Homo sapiens: one gene and its partners. The protein of the gene in region 3 purifies or fractionates together with the protein of the main gene of each other region. This does not show direct contact. Each region holds a gene or a part of one and is shown on either strand. Other genes may lie near its edges.

Evidence for each region. The genes of interacting proteins can lie anywhere in the genome.
Region 1: the proteins of DNAJC27 (region 3) and FAIM purify together in Homo sapiens (affinity purification with mass spectrometry; one large-scale study listed by BioGRID and IntAct). This does not show direct contact.
Region 2: the proteins of DNAJC27 (region 3) and ACP1 purify together in Homo sapiens (affinity purification with mass spectrometry, with the first as the bait; one large-scale study listed by BioGRID). This does not show direct contact.
Region 4: the proteins of DNAJC27 (region 3) and ANP32B purify together in Homo sapiens (affinity purification with mass spectrometry, with the first as the bait; one large-scale study listed by BioGRID). This does not show direct contact.

The regions. Positions count from the first base shown.
Region 1 is NC_000003.12:138,618,771-138,622,270, reverse strand, and holds part of FAIM (fas apoptotic inhibitory molecule 1), read right to left. Parts: intron 2,561-3,500; coding exon of another isoform or gene 2,545-2,560; coding exon 2,501-2,544; intron 865-2,500; coding exon 732-864; intron 84-731; coding exon 1-83. UniProt on the Homo sapiens protein: Plays a role as an inducible effector molecule that mediates Fas resistance produced by surface Ig engagement in B cells.
Region 2 is NC_000002.12:271,447-274,946, reverse strand, and holds part of ACP1 (low molecular weight phosphotyrosine protein phosphatase), read right to left. Parts: intron 3,082-3,500; coding exon 3,008-3,081; intron 2,911-3,007; coding exon 2,797-2,910; coding exon of another isoform or gene 2,642-2,796; exon of another isoform or gene 2,466-2,641; intron 1-2,465. UniProt on the Homo sapiens protein: Acts on tyrosine phosphorylated proteins, low-MW aryl phosphates and natural and synthetic acyl phosphates with differences in substrate specificity between isoform 1 and isoform 2.
Region 3 is NC_000002.12:24,961,956-24,965,455, forward strand, and holds part of DNAJC27 (dnaJ homolog subfamily C member 27), read right to left. Parts: intron 1,520-3,500; coding exon 1,450-1,519; intron 1-1,449. UniProt on the Homo sapiens protein: GTPase which can activate the MEK/ERK pathway and induce cell transformation when overexpressed. May act as a nuclear scaffold for MAPK1, probably by association with MAPK1 nuclear export signal leading to enhanced ERK1/ERK2 signaling.
Region 4 is NC_000009.12:97,989,841-97,993,340, reverse strand, and holds part of ANP32B (acidic leucine-rich nuclear phosphoprotein 32 family member B), read right to left. Parts: exon of another isoform or gene 1,647-3,500; intron 1-1,646. UniProt on the Homo sapiens protein: Multifunctional protein that is involved in the regulation of many processes including cell proliferation, apoptosis, cell cycle progression or transcription.

The DNA.
Region 1 (3,500 bases), on a different chromosome or scaffold from region 3:
ATGGTCGCTTTTGTCTTTGCAGCTCCAACATAGAATGTTTCTTTGCCCACTAATTTGAACATCCACTCTTTTCTTATCTCTTCCTACATAATAAAACAGAAAAATATGAAACAAATGGAAGAAAAATTGATATCTAATTTTAGAAATAACGTAAAGTGAACAAAGGCAATGCCATTTAGATATAATTTCATTGCCGGGAGTGGTGGCTCATGCCTGTAATCCCAGCGCTTTGGGAGGCTGAGGCGGGCGGATCATGAGGTCAGGAGTTTGAGACCAGCCTGGCCAACAGTGAAACCCCGTCTCTACTAAAAATACAAAAAATCAGCAGGGCGTAATGGCAGGTGCCTGTAATCCCAGCTACTTGAGAGGCTGAGGCAGGAGAATAGCTTAAACACAGAAGGTGGAGGTTGTGGTGAGCTGAGACTGCGCCACTGCACTCCAGCCTGGGTGACACAGCGAGACTCCGTCTCAAAAAAAAGAAAAAAAAAAGATGTAATTTTATTAATTTATGATGCCAAGGTTTTAGAAAATAAAAGCATTTTAAGTTTAAATATTACACGCTATATTCCATGAATTCTATAACTATGTTTGCTTTACACAGCAAAATGATACAGATCAAAAACATGACTACAAGAAAAAAAAGCCCTGAATTCACATATGAAGATGCTACTTTAACAAAATCAAGTTTCTCTATATATCATATTTTACAAAGTAACATATTTTCTTCCTACCTTTCCATCTACATATACTACTCGTTTGCCTGATGTAGTCCCATGTTCAAATTCGATCTTGTGGACTCCGTCACTTAAAGCAACATCCCAAACAGCTACGAGATCTGTCATTTTTTCTAGGCTGTAAGGAGGGCTAAAGGAATAAAATAAAGCAATTATAGTAGGCCAAAATACTAATTAAATAACCAATTAATCCTTCCAAGATGAAAATATTAGATTAAAACCTCTAAAATGTCAAAATATTAAAGTGACAGTACCTAAGAAATTCTACTCACAGTACATGTAACTATTTTCTCCCTCTTATTCACTCTTCCTTTAAGATACAACTACTATATATGGGTACATAGTCCGATTACTTCTAAAAAAAAGCCACCTTAATATTAATAGGATTAAGAATGCATCAGTTTATCCTGGTCAGTATTCTAGGTTAGGCTACAGTATAGTGCATGGAAAGGTCAGTAAAAAGTCTTTATTCTTCTCCCACCAGCTCCCATGTAAAAACCATGGTAATTAATTTTATTTCTCTTTTTCAGGTCTAATCACTCTAAAACAAGAACTCTCCAAACCTCCCATACTTAAACTCGCACTAGGGATTTGTTTTAACAAAAAGGTTCTAATTTATTATACTAAGACAGAAAAAAGTCATGGAAGAAATGCCCTATAATAAAGATAAAAATAATTTTTAAATGTTATGAAAAATATTCTTGGCATTATTACAGGAAATCTTATTTTAAAAAAATAAAGGACTTTGGGCTGGGTGCAGGGGCTCATGCCTGTAATCCTAGCACTTTGGGAGACTGAGGTGGGCAGATTACTTGAGCCCAGGAGTTCCAGACCAGCCTGGACAACATGGTGAAACCCTGTCTCTACAAACATATTAGTCACACGTGATGGCGCATGCCTGGAGTCCCAGCTACTTGGGATGCTGAGGTAAGAGAGCCATCTTAGCCCAGGAGGTTGAGGCTGCAGTGAGCCATGATTGCACCACCACGTTCCAGCCCGGGTGAAAGAGTGAGACTGTCTCAAAAATAAGAAATAAATAAAGGATTTTGGTTTGTCAGAGATTTCTGGCATATACTTCAACATATATTTTTGATGTTAATATATCCTATGTGAATGACATAATACATAATATCTAATTAATATTTTGATATTGGTGTATCTTTTTAGCTTTGACAGAAGTATCATTTATTACAGTAATAATAATCATAGCTAACAGCTATTAAGTGATAACTATGTATCAGTCATTGTTCTAAGAGCTTTAAATATATTAACTCATAGAATCACCATGAGATGGCTACTATTAGTATCCTTATTTTACAGATGAGGCTTAGAGAGGCTAAGGGTTTACCTAAGGTCACAATGACATTAAGTGGCAGAGGTAGGATTTAAACCTAGGATTCTGGCTCCAAAGCCTGTTCTCTTAACTACATCTTCCTCTTTGTTCGCCCTAATCTCCTCTGTACGCTCTAAACTGAAGATGGTAAATGGATTTTATATCATTTTGAAGTGGTTGCCAAGAACTCTGTGCTGACAGAAATGAGAAGACCTCACATCAAGGCTCTACTGAAATGGATGCCATGTTTCTAGTGGCTACCTCCACGCCAGGTATTTACTACTCCTGCTTTAAATCACACAAAAGCAGAACCATGTATTCTGCAATTTTACAAAATGTATTCTTAACAGAGTATCTTGGATAAATCACTCTTTTGAATGATAACAATCTTGAAAATGTCAAAGGCTAGTTTACTGCAATATAAGACATTTACCTTTCATCATCTTCAAAGATAGGACTGTCATCTCCAGATGCCATGGTTGGCAAAAACAGTCTTTAATCCAATTAGCAGCCAGGAAAGAAAAAAGCAGAATTGCAGCAAAGAAAGATTGAAAGCAACAATGATGACATCTACAAAGGGTTTTTCTAATTTTGCAATCCATTTATTAAATTACATGGAGTTTCAGATGAAACAGCTTCTACATAAAATAGAATTGCAATCTTTAATTCTCAGAGAAAGATGTTACATCATGCAAATCAGTCAGTCATATTTTTCCCTGTTATGGATTTATAATTTCTTAAAGGTATACTTTATCAAAACTAAAGAACAAACTCTCCTTTGTTGCAAGTGTTATAGCATATCAGAGCTGCAAGAGACCTAAGAGATCCTCTGGGTCCTATGCTTTTCAAGTTGAAGCGTAAGAAGCCCCAAGGCTATGAGTCAGGGAATACATCAAACTCCAGGATAAACACAATGTATCTTCTGGGAGCATCAATGTTAAAGTGGCAACTAATTTAAAATGTAATCTTTATTTTAGAAGGCTACACTATGGTGGAACATAACTTTCAAAATCTGTTTAGATAACTTCAAAGAACTAATGAGTTTGCAAGAAGCAGACAGGGATATGCTGGTCTGCTCTCAAAGAGTGAACTTAATTTATCCCCTTACTTAAGCCCATTTAATTTACTAGTGCCAATGATGAATCCACAAAAGTTATGTGCCTTGCTCATGTAACTGGCAGGATCCAACCCAGAACTAGAGCCCAGTACTGTACTATGCAATGAACTAAACAGTAACTGGGCTGCAGTGTTAATTAAGCTGTACTAAAATCAGAAGTGCACATAAATTCACATGCATAGGAAACCCTCACATTTGAAGATTTGGGATTAACAGTTTCACTCCTGCCAAAGTATCCTAAATTCAACTATTTTTTGCTTCCAAGATCTATCCTAGTTTAGCCCTTTCCTTAATTAGTGCCTGTTTCCTACAGATG
Region 2 (3,500 bases), about 25 Mb from region 3:
TTTGTATTATAAAGTTCCATACAATAATCATAAAATAGTATAATGTGTAGACACAATGTTTATACATCGGCTTCAATTCCTTAGTAGCAGTGTATAATACAGTCAACATACTAAAATGTCACATATTTAATCCCCTTCATTATTCTACTCTATTTTTCATTCCACAAGCACTGAACATCCTGGGCCCCAGTAACAAACACCAAGCTAAGTGGACAGAGCCGCGTCCCATGGAGCTGCCCTTCCACATGGGGGCAGGCAACACACAGGAGGCACAGATGCCCTGGAGGAAATAAAGCAGAGAGGAGATACATACAGCTTTGGGGCAGGGAGGAGTAAAAGTATTAAGTTGGGTGGTCAGAGGTGGTCACTAAGAAAGAAACACAGGAGTGATAACTGACAGTCCTCCTTTATTTTGATTGACTATCCATAATTTAAACCTCACACAGAAGAGAATGCCACTCAGTATTTCTACTGATTGTAACCTGAAAGCTTATGATTGTTTTCTGATATAATCTATAAACACACCTACTTAAAATACAAATGAAAAGATTATTTTGTGAATTTCGACTACTATAAATAATGGCAGAATAAGAAACATAAACATACGTACTGCGGAACAAAGGTGGAAAGTGTATACCTGTTCTTCTAAAAAATGAGAAACTTTGGCTTTTAGTATGCACTTCCAGTAGCTAGAAAAGACTGTATTTCGTCAACACTCCCATGACATTGACTTATTTCAAAATTGAGAATAAGTACAATACTGAATTTTTTCTTTTTGTTTTTAGAGAAAAGGTCTCACTCTGTCACCAACACTGGGGTACAGTGGTGTGATCATAGCTCACTGCAGCCTCAACTTCTTGAGTTCAAGCCAACCTCCTACCTCAGCCTCCCAAACAGCTGGGACTACAGGCATATGTCATAGCACCCAGCTAATTTTTAAAATTTTTTTGGTAGAGATGGGTCTCACTATGTTGCTCAGGCTGGTCTTGACCTCCTAGGCTCAAGCAATGTTGAGCCTCCCAAAGTGTTATTAGGATTATAAGTGTGAGCCACCATGCCTGAACAGTATTATATTATTTCTCCAAATTAGTTATGTGAGAAATTCCCTAGGATTTAATACTAAACTTGTTTTAAATTCTGGACTAATTGTAAATTTTTCATAAAAAAAGACTTAGTAACTGTTACATAATTTTTAGATGTTACAATAATTGAGAAAGAAACAGCTATAACTTATGTAACAAATGCACAATAAAGGATTTCCACTTGCAGCTATAAATGAAACAGCTTGTGGCAAATCACCCCTACTACTAAAAACAACTAGAAACGCCATATAAAAAACCAGTGCTGCAGAGACAGTCGGGCTTTGTGGCCACCAGGCCGCTCTGGCTGTGCTGCTCTAGCACAAAAGCAGCCGCGAACTACAGGTGAATGAGTGAGTCTGGCTGTGTTCCAACAAACACTGTTCATAAAAAAGGTGCCTCAAAAAAAGGTGCAGGCCCCAATCTGCAGACTCCTGCCACTTGCCACTTCTCTTCCTGCTAAAACTGGAAAGTGATGAGACCTCAGAACAGGGATCTCAAACGGTTCAGTAGCAGAACTCTTGAACTCTGTAAAATTATTTAAATCCTATGTTATGGTTTGGATGTGTCCCCCAAAGTTCCTTTGTTGGAAACTTCATCCCCAATGCAACAATAGTGAGACGCAGGATCTTTATTAATGCCACTATCTTGGGAGTGGGCTCCTGACACTGATGGGTCCTCTCTCTCTCTCTCCTCTGTTTCCCTCTTCCCGTTTTTCTAGTTCTCGCTCTCACTCACTCTGGGGCACTCTCTTGACTCCTCCACCTTCTACCACAGGACGATGCAGCAAGAAGGACTTCACAGCCCCATGAGCCCCTTGGCTTTGGACTTCTCCAAATAAATGTATTTTCAACAATGGCCAGTAGAAACTGGCAAGGTATGCAAATCCTGAAGAGATGAGGATGGATAAATTGTATAAAAATGTTGAATCACCTGACCAATGAAGATTCCATTTCCGAAAAGGTCAGTCCCAGAGTACTTCATTTAAATAAAGAACTCTTAGAAAAATCAACTTTAGCTTCTAATTCATAATATAAAGACAAGGTTATCTTCAATTGAAATTGCAGAATTTGATTGTGACTTTATTAGACTCCAAACTTAAGTGTGGCCCAATAGACTATAATTATATATCCATAATGTTGCTGGTATTACCCTATATTACTAAGGCACTTTACAGTTGAAAAAATGTTTTTGTATATATTATATAACCTCATTCTAGCAACAAACTTGCAATATCAGCAGGATGATTACTATGGCCTAAATGTTTAATAAAAATTATGCAGGAAGGAACAGAAGACAGAGCACCGCTCAGCCCCAGCTCACAGTCAGGCTCTCTCATTATAAATTACCTAGCTTTTATGTGCATTTTAATAAGTAAATTCCAAAGTCAGGCAAGTCTTTCAACACCGTGCAACCAGAAGTGAAACAAAATGGACACACCATAGCTGGTTAAGCTCACCCTAAATAAACACATTCATTAATATACAAGTCTGGTTAATCCTTTCGCTACTTCTCAAGTTACTGGACTCTATATATTAGAAATTGAACAAGAGCTTGTCTACCTGTCTTGCTTTATGGGCTGTGTGAATGCCATGATTTCTTAGGCAGCTCACAGCTCTTGGGTCTGGGGACCGGCCCACGTTCCAGTCAGAAACAGCACCGCTGTCAATGACCCACTGAAACACAAAACACACAACTTCAAGTCCAAGGACGGTACCTGCCGGGCAACGTGGCTCATGGGAATGCCGTGCCTCTTCATGCAGCTCTGCCCTCGGTAGTCAGGGGGGTTCCCTATCTCATACCCGGAAGTTGCCGCGCTGTCTACCCTCCACTGCAGGGGAAGAAACATGGAATTTTTTTTTTTTTTTTGCAATTTCCTGCCCAGAGGAGTTCAGGTTGGCCTCTTTAAGATAATGAATGGTACTTACATTCTCTGAGATGTTTTGATCGGTTACAAGTTTCCTGAAAACTGCTTCTGCAATGGGTGATCGACAAATGTTACCTTTAAAAAAAGGGAGGGGTGGGGAAACAGGGTTAGGTTGGATGGAAGGGCACATGCCAGCTCCCCTTCTTTACACACCTGACACACGGGGGCTGTGCTATCCCTCAGGAAAAACAAAGGCCAACACTATCCTTTGACGCCTTTGTCCAACCAGTGAGGGTAGACCCTGCTGGAGAACAGCCTATCAGGCTCAAGTTCAGTGATTTGACACCAACCAGCCAAGTACTCCAAGTACAGATGACAAAGATATCAGAAAAACAATTTCAACAAAAATTATTGTTTAAAGAGTTGCTACTAATGATCCAGGAGTGAATCACGAAAATGAAGTGGGTTGCAACCAGCTTATTTTAAAATGAAATACAACAGAATAAAAATAAAATACAGTGGTCTGTCCCTCAGTAGACTCAGGAGCTGGTTCA
Region 3 (3,500 bases):
TCTAATGTGGGTGAAAATGCTGTCAAATAGCATTGCATGGTACAGAGAAATCTTTCATGAAAGGAAGAGTCAATCAATGTGCCAAACTTTATTGTTGTCTTATTTTAAGAAACTGCCACATCAACCACCACCCTCATCAGTCAGCAGCCATCATCACCGAGGCAGCCTCTGATCACAATGGAATCAAACTAGAAATCAGTAACAGAAGGATTAACAGGAAAATCTCCTAACACTTGGAAACTAAACAACATACTTTTTTTCTTTTGTTTTTTTTTGTGTTTTTTGTTTGTTTGTTTGTTTTTGAATAACACACTCTCTTTTTTGAGATGGAGTTTCACTCTTTCACCCAGGCTGGAGTGAAGTGGCACGATTTTGGATCCCTGCAACCTCCGCCTGTTCAAGCGATTCTCCTACCTCAGCCTCCCAGGAAGCTGGGATTACAGGGATGTGCCACCACACCCGGCTGATTTTTGTGTTTTTAGTAGAGACAGGGTTTCCCCATGTTGGCCAGGCTGGTCTCGAATTCCTGACCTCAGGTGATCCACCCTTCTCGGCCTCCCAAAGTGCTGGGATTACAGACGTGAGCTACTGCTCCCGGCCTGAATAACACACTTCTAAATAACTCATACATCAAACAGAAAGTCTCAAGGGAAATTAAAGAAATACATTGAACTGAATGAAAATGAAAATACAACATCTCAGAATTTGTGGGACACACAGTTGTGCTGAGAGGGAAATATGTAGCATTAAATGAATTTATTAAAAAAGGAAAAAGTCTCAAATCAATAATCTAAGATCCCACCTCAAGAATCTAAAACAAAAAGAGCAAAATAAGCTTAAAGCAAGCAGAGAGAAGGAAATGATAAAGATTAAGGCAGAAGTGAAACGGCCAAACCAGAAAAGAGCAAAAAACCTCCTTAAGAAAAATGAAAAAGCCCAAGGAAGGAAAAACAAAAGAGAATGGTCATGAGATTCATTTGGTGATTACTTAGAGCTGGTAAGCAGATGAAAATAAATCAAGTAGTTGCTTTAGCTTCTTCTCTGGAAAGAATGCAGATGACTAGGCATGAATAGGAACGATCACCCCAGTACCCTGCTGTGAAAGAAGTCGCATCACTGAGTTCTTAAGCCCAAGCATAAATGTAATTATTTTTTTTTTCACATTTTAGGCTAAAGTATGAGGTAAAAAGCAAAAGTCCTCTGAAAGTCAAAATGTCTTATTGAAATGTTTGAAATATTGGCAATGAAATTTCCTACCACTATTTAACAGGATAACCTAAAAGATCAACAGTTGTCTATTAACTCAAGGCTCTGAAGGCAAGCCACGATCAAGCTAAAATTATGCAATTTTACACATGATATCAATATTGGTTGTTTCATATAATTCTGGATCTCTCCCCAAACCACCAACAATACTGGATATAGGTTTTGTCAAAAAGGCTTTCTTACCTCATAGAAGAAGGGATGTCCAGCCATATCAAAGATGTTAACTTTGATTTCTCTGTCTCTGACGTGTACCCTGAAATGTTCAAATGGAAACAATCCGAAAGAAAGTCATGGTTTCTCCATTTACCTTAATATCATTTATAAATTTCAAAAGGATATGTGTATGCAATTTAAGAAGCTTTCTTAGTGCCTCTTCCTCATTCCAGATCATCTTTACAATAGCAGTCAGCAACCTGACAGATGATCCTGCCTTCTTATCCCAAGAACACTGAACCCACATGGAGTAGGCATTCTCAATTACTTCACTTTCACCTTCACTTCTAGAAACTTTGGTCCACAGCTCCCAACCAACAAAGGGTAGCTATTACTATGGTATTAAGAAAAATTGATTTGGGATAAGTAGGAGCAAGATGAAGGAAAATGAAAAGTTTTATTTCACTTAGTAAGAGACATCTTAATTACCACTGGTTATATTTGGTTATCACACAGCAGAATAACAACGATGTATATTAATGACGTCTGTTTAATTTTCTTGTGATCTTTATTTGAGCAAGAGCAATAGTGAATTTGTTTTCAGATATTTGGAAATAAAGAATAAAACCAAAGGGGAAACAATAACCATTCATATTAGAATTAACTACTGTTAACATCATAGCATATTTGTTCCTAGTCTTTTTTTTCATGAAAAATCACCATTGGAAAATGATAAAGGAACATTAGAAATAATTCAAACACTAGGCCGGACACGGTGGCTCACGCCTGTAATCCCAGCACTGTGGGAGGCCGAGATGGGCGGATCATGAGGTCAGGAGATCGAGACCATCCTGGCTAACATAGTGAAACCCCGTCCCTACTAAAAAAATAAAAAAAATTAGCCGGGCGTGGTGGTGGGCACCTGTAGTCCCAGCTACTCAGGAGGCTGAGGCAGGAGAATGGCATGAACCCGGGAGGTGGAGCTTGCAGTGAGCCGAGATCACGCCACTGCACTCCAACCTGGGCGACTGAGTAAGACTCCGTCTCAAAAAAAAAAAAAAAAGAAAAATAAATAATTCAAACACAAAAGAAAAACACAAAGATGAATGTTTAAAAGTTATTCCAGGCCAACAGGTAGAGAGGGAGAGAGATGTAGTGAAATGACCTATCTATATTCCCTATGATTCCAGCCATCTCTGAGGCCCAGCTGCATCCTTGTTGCTAGATTATGTGAACTGATTAATATCCATTTTCTTTTATTTTGCTTAAGTTGGTTTGAAATAGGTTTCTGTCAATTATATCCTCCTGACTCATCATGGGACAAACATCTCTTCCAAAAAAATTTCTGCCAGAAACAAAATAGTCTGTTGACTATACCATGGTCCTTTGGCATAATATGGTAATTCTCACATCTTAGATAAATAAACTAGCTACTTATATGAATTCAGAACAAAACTATCTTAAATAGGATGTCCTACTATATCACTGATGAAATCCTATGCTTTGAAGCAGGAAAGAGGAAAAGAAAACTAGAAAGAAAGGTAAATTTCAGGCTGGACGCGGTGGCTCACACCTGTAATCCGAACACTTTGGGAGGCCGAGGTGGACGGATCACGAGGTCAGGAGTTTGAGACCAGCCTGGCCAACATGGTGAAACCCTGTCTCTACTAAGAATACAAAAATTAGCTGGGCGTGGTGACATGTGCCTGTAATCCCAGCTACTTGGGAGGCTGAGGCAGGAGAATCGCTTAAACCCGGGAGGCGGAAGTTGCAGCAAGCTGAGGTTGCAGTGAGCCAAGATCGCGCCACTGCACTCCAGCCTGAGCGACAAGAGCGAAACTCTGTCTCAGGGAAAAGAAAAAAAAAAGAATGTGAATTTCATTTTTATTTTTATTTATTTTTGAGGAGTCTCACTCTGTTGCCCAGGCTGGAGTGCAGTGGCATAATCTTGGCTCACTGCAACCTCCGCCTCCGGGGTTCAAGTGATTCTCCCACCTCAGCCTCCCAAGTAGTTGGGATTATAGGCAACTGCCACCACGTCCGGCTAATTTTTGTATTTTTAGTAGAGATAGGGTTTCACC
Region 4 (3,500 bases), on a different chromosome or scaffold from region 3:
CAATGATGCTACTCTAGTAATTGCTATCAATTATAGAGTACTTAATCATTTATTCTTTTTACCACCACTCTCCTTCCCCCATTTACAGAGAAGGAAACAGATTTCAAGTCAGCAATGCCCACAACATAGTAAGTGCCTAACCGCTTCTCACTACCCTGTCTACTTCCTCTTCAGAAGCCAGGCATCCTTTTTACTCTTTACATCCACTTACTTCTTCCTTCCTTCCACTTTTCTTTAGGTATCTCTGCCATTCTTCCCTTTTCTGATAAGAAATGGGCACATCTGAAAACTTAATAGGTCAACTCTGACAAAAGCTGGGCTCTGGAGACATATGCCGGGGGTTGAATCCTGGTTCACCTCTGCCACTCAGAACTTGTGCGACCTTGTGCGAGTCACTTAACTTCTCTGTGCCTCAGTTTCCCATAAAGTGGAGATAATAGTACCTACCTCATGAAGTTGTAGAGACTAGGGCTTGGAACATTATAAATGCCCAGAAAGTAACCTCTGGGTAAAGGGAATGGGAAATGTCAGTGACCTTTGCTGTTTACTTTACTTATATCTGTACTAAGTTTTTTACAACCATGTATTTATTCTGTATTAAAAAGCAACTAAACATAAAACCAACGAACCATTAAAATTTTAAAAAGGTCGACTGTCATCACCCACCAATGTAAACAGTATACTGCAATACAATTAAAATGTTCCCATTTAGCTTGGGAGAGTTTCTATAATTTTATCCAAAATAATCCAAAAACGTTATACAAAATACACCAATATGCCAAAAGTGAAGTGAAGAAGAATTAAGAGTTAGCCACACTGCCTCTCAGCTCACAGAGTGAAATCACCTCTTAAAGACATTTCTTTCAACTTGCAAAATTCCACTTGAACCACTGCAAGGCGTCATCAGAAAGTATCACAGGACTCAAATGCAGGTTAAAAAATGTTTTTGCTGGCTGGGCGTGGTGGCTCATGCCTGTAATCCCAACACTCCTGGGAGGTCAAGGCGGGCGGATCATCTAAGGTCAGGAGTTCAAGACAGCCTGGCCAACACAGTGAAACCCCATCTCTACTAAAAATACAAAAATAAGCCAGGCATGGTGGCGTGTGCCTGTAATCCCAGCAACTTGGGAGGCTGAGGCAGGAGAATTGCTTGAACCTGGGAGGCAGAAGTTGCAGTGAGCTGAGAATGTGCCACTGCACCCCAGCCTCGGTGAAAAAGGAGACTCCATCTCAAAAAGAAAAAGAAAAAAAAAGTCACCGCTAGACTAAGCTTCATGATGACAGGATCATGTATATTCTGGTTACCACTATATCACTGTGTAAGAGCCTACATAACTGCGGAATGAGGAAAAAAACGGTCACAGGTTTGTCAGCAATATTGTACAGAGGTTTGTGTCACAATTGTGGGGGACTAAGATGAAAACCTGGACATAAAAGGGACCAACTTTCTGATCACAGAGTATTTTTTAAGAAAGCACAGTGTGTGGATATATTATAAATCACTTTACAATCCTTCGTGTTGAACATTTGTGCTCAATTTTCCCTACTATAAATAATGCCATATCTTTACTTAAAATGTCTTCTGTATTTAGGACTGTGTTTTCAGAATCCATTGCTAAGTGAAAGAATACAAACATCTGAGTGTGTTATTAGTTAAGAGTTCTTTATTTAAAATGTCAACTTCTCTTTTAAATGAGTAGTTCATTTTAACTGCCACAAAATTATTTTCTGATTTATTTGACTGTTACTTTTTGTAACCTCTCGATTACGGAAATTCTGGCTATTTGCATTTATCTTGTTCTTGAGGATATCTTCTATTTTTTTTACCCTAAGTGAGGAAAAAATAAATACCCCAGCAGAAACACTAACGAAGGACAGACAAGCTCTAAAAGACACAAATAGCCAACACTAAAAAAAACTGTTCAAGGCCAGGTGCAGTGGCTAGTGCCTACAATCCCAGTATTTTGGGAGGCAGAAGTGGGAGGACCACCTGAGCCCAGGAGTCCAAGAGTCACCTGGGCAACATAGGGAGACCCTGTCTCTACAAAAAATAAATAATTATCTGGGCATGGTGGTGCATGCCTGTGGTCCGAGCTACTTGAGAGGCTGATGCAGGAGGATCACTTGAGCCCAGGAGGTCCAGGTTGCAGTGAGCCATTATCATGCCACTATGCTCCAGCTTGGGCCACAGAGACCCAGTTAAAAAAAAAAAAAGTTTGGCTGGGCACGGTGGCTCACGTCTATAATCCCAACCACTTTGGGAGGCTGAGGCGGGCAGATCACCTGAGGTCAGGAGTTTGAGACCAGCCTGGCCAACCTGGCGAAACCCCATCTCTACTAAAAATACAAAAAAATGTGCCGGGCATGGTGGTGTGCACCTGTAGTCCCAGCTACTCGGGAGGATGAGGCAGGAGAATGCTTGAACCCGCGAGGCGGAGGGTTGCAGTGAGCCAAGATTGCGCCACCGCACTCCAGCCTGGGCACCAGAGCAAGATTATGTCTCAAAAAAAAAAAAAAAAAAAAAAAGGTTCAACTGTAAGCAGTAAAAGTGCATATTAAAAATGAGGTATCATTCTACTCTTGTTGGAGGAGGGACAGCTCCTTCAAGAGAGATGGCTAGGATGGACACAGATGTAGGTGAGTTTGTTAAGTGAGAATGAGAAGTTCAGGAAATGAATACCTGAGACCTTTAATTGCCTCTACCAGTAAGAGGCAATAAGATATACTGGGATAAATAGGGCAGAGAGTTGTTGGGCTAGGCAGAAAAGGCAAGTCCCTTGACTTTTCCAGAAAGGCTGAGAATGTAAAGAAACATGCCACCCCAAGAACAGAACGCCAGAAGCATACTGAGAAGATGAGTCACTGGGGAATAAGCACAGAGGAGAATGGGAATTACTGCATAAAGCAGAGACCACTGGAGGGCCCCACTTAGGGCTGTACCCAAGGATAGCAGGTCTAAATGTTCCATCAGCCAACTTCAAGGTTGTTGAAAGTTCTTAACAGGACCTTGATGAAAGGTATTCTGAGCTCGGATATTGTTTCAATGGCAGAAAAGTGGCATTTGAGGTGCAGAAAAAGTGTATTTACATGTGCAACACACATACACAGGTGCACTCACACTCAGTGATAACTGAGTAGTTAGAATTTAGGGCTTATATACCTAACTTAGAAGAGGAAAGGACAGCAGGAGAAAAACCTTTTGGGAAGAACAGATTTCTTTAGGGAACACAAATGGTATTTTCAGAACAAATGAGAGATCAAGTTTACAATGTCTGTCTACATAGGTATGAGTGGTCTTTCTTTTCTTAGGGCCAAAAGACTACCCCTCCAACCCCTACCAGAGGTTTACTCTTGGCCTCTCTCCTGGGAACAGACTCACTCCAAAGGGAGAATTTATGTCAGCCCTCGTTTGTGACATGTATTTGCTTTTAGCCAGATAAACTCCAAGTAGGCTTCTCTCTGCATCTGTTGAATCTCAAATCTCTTCAGTTTAAAACAAT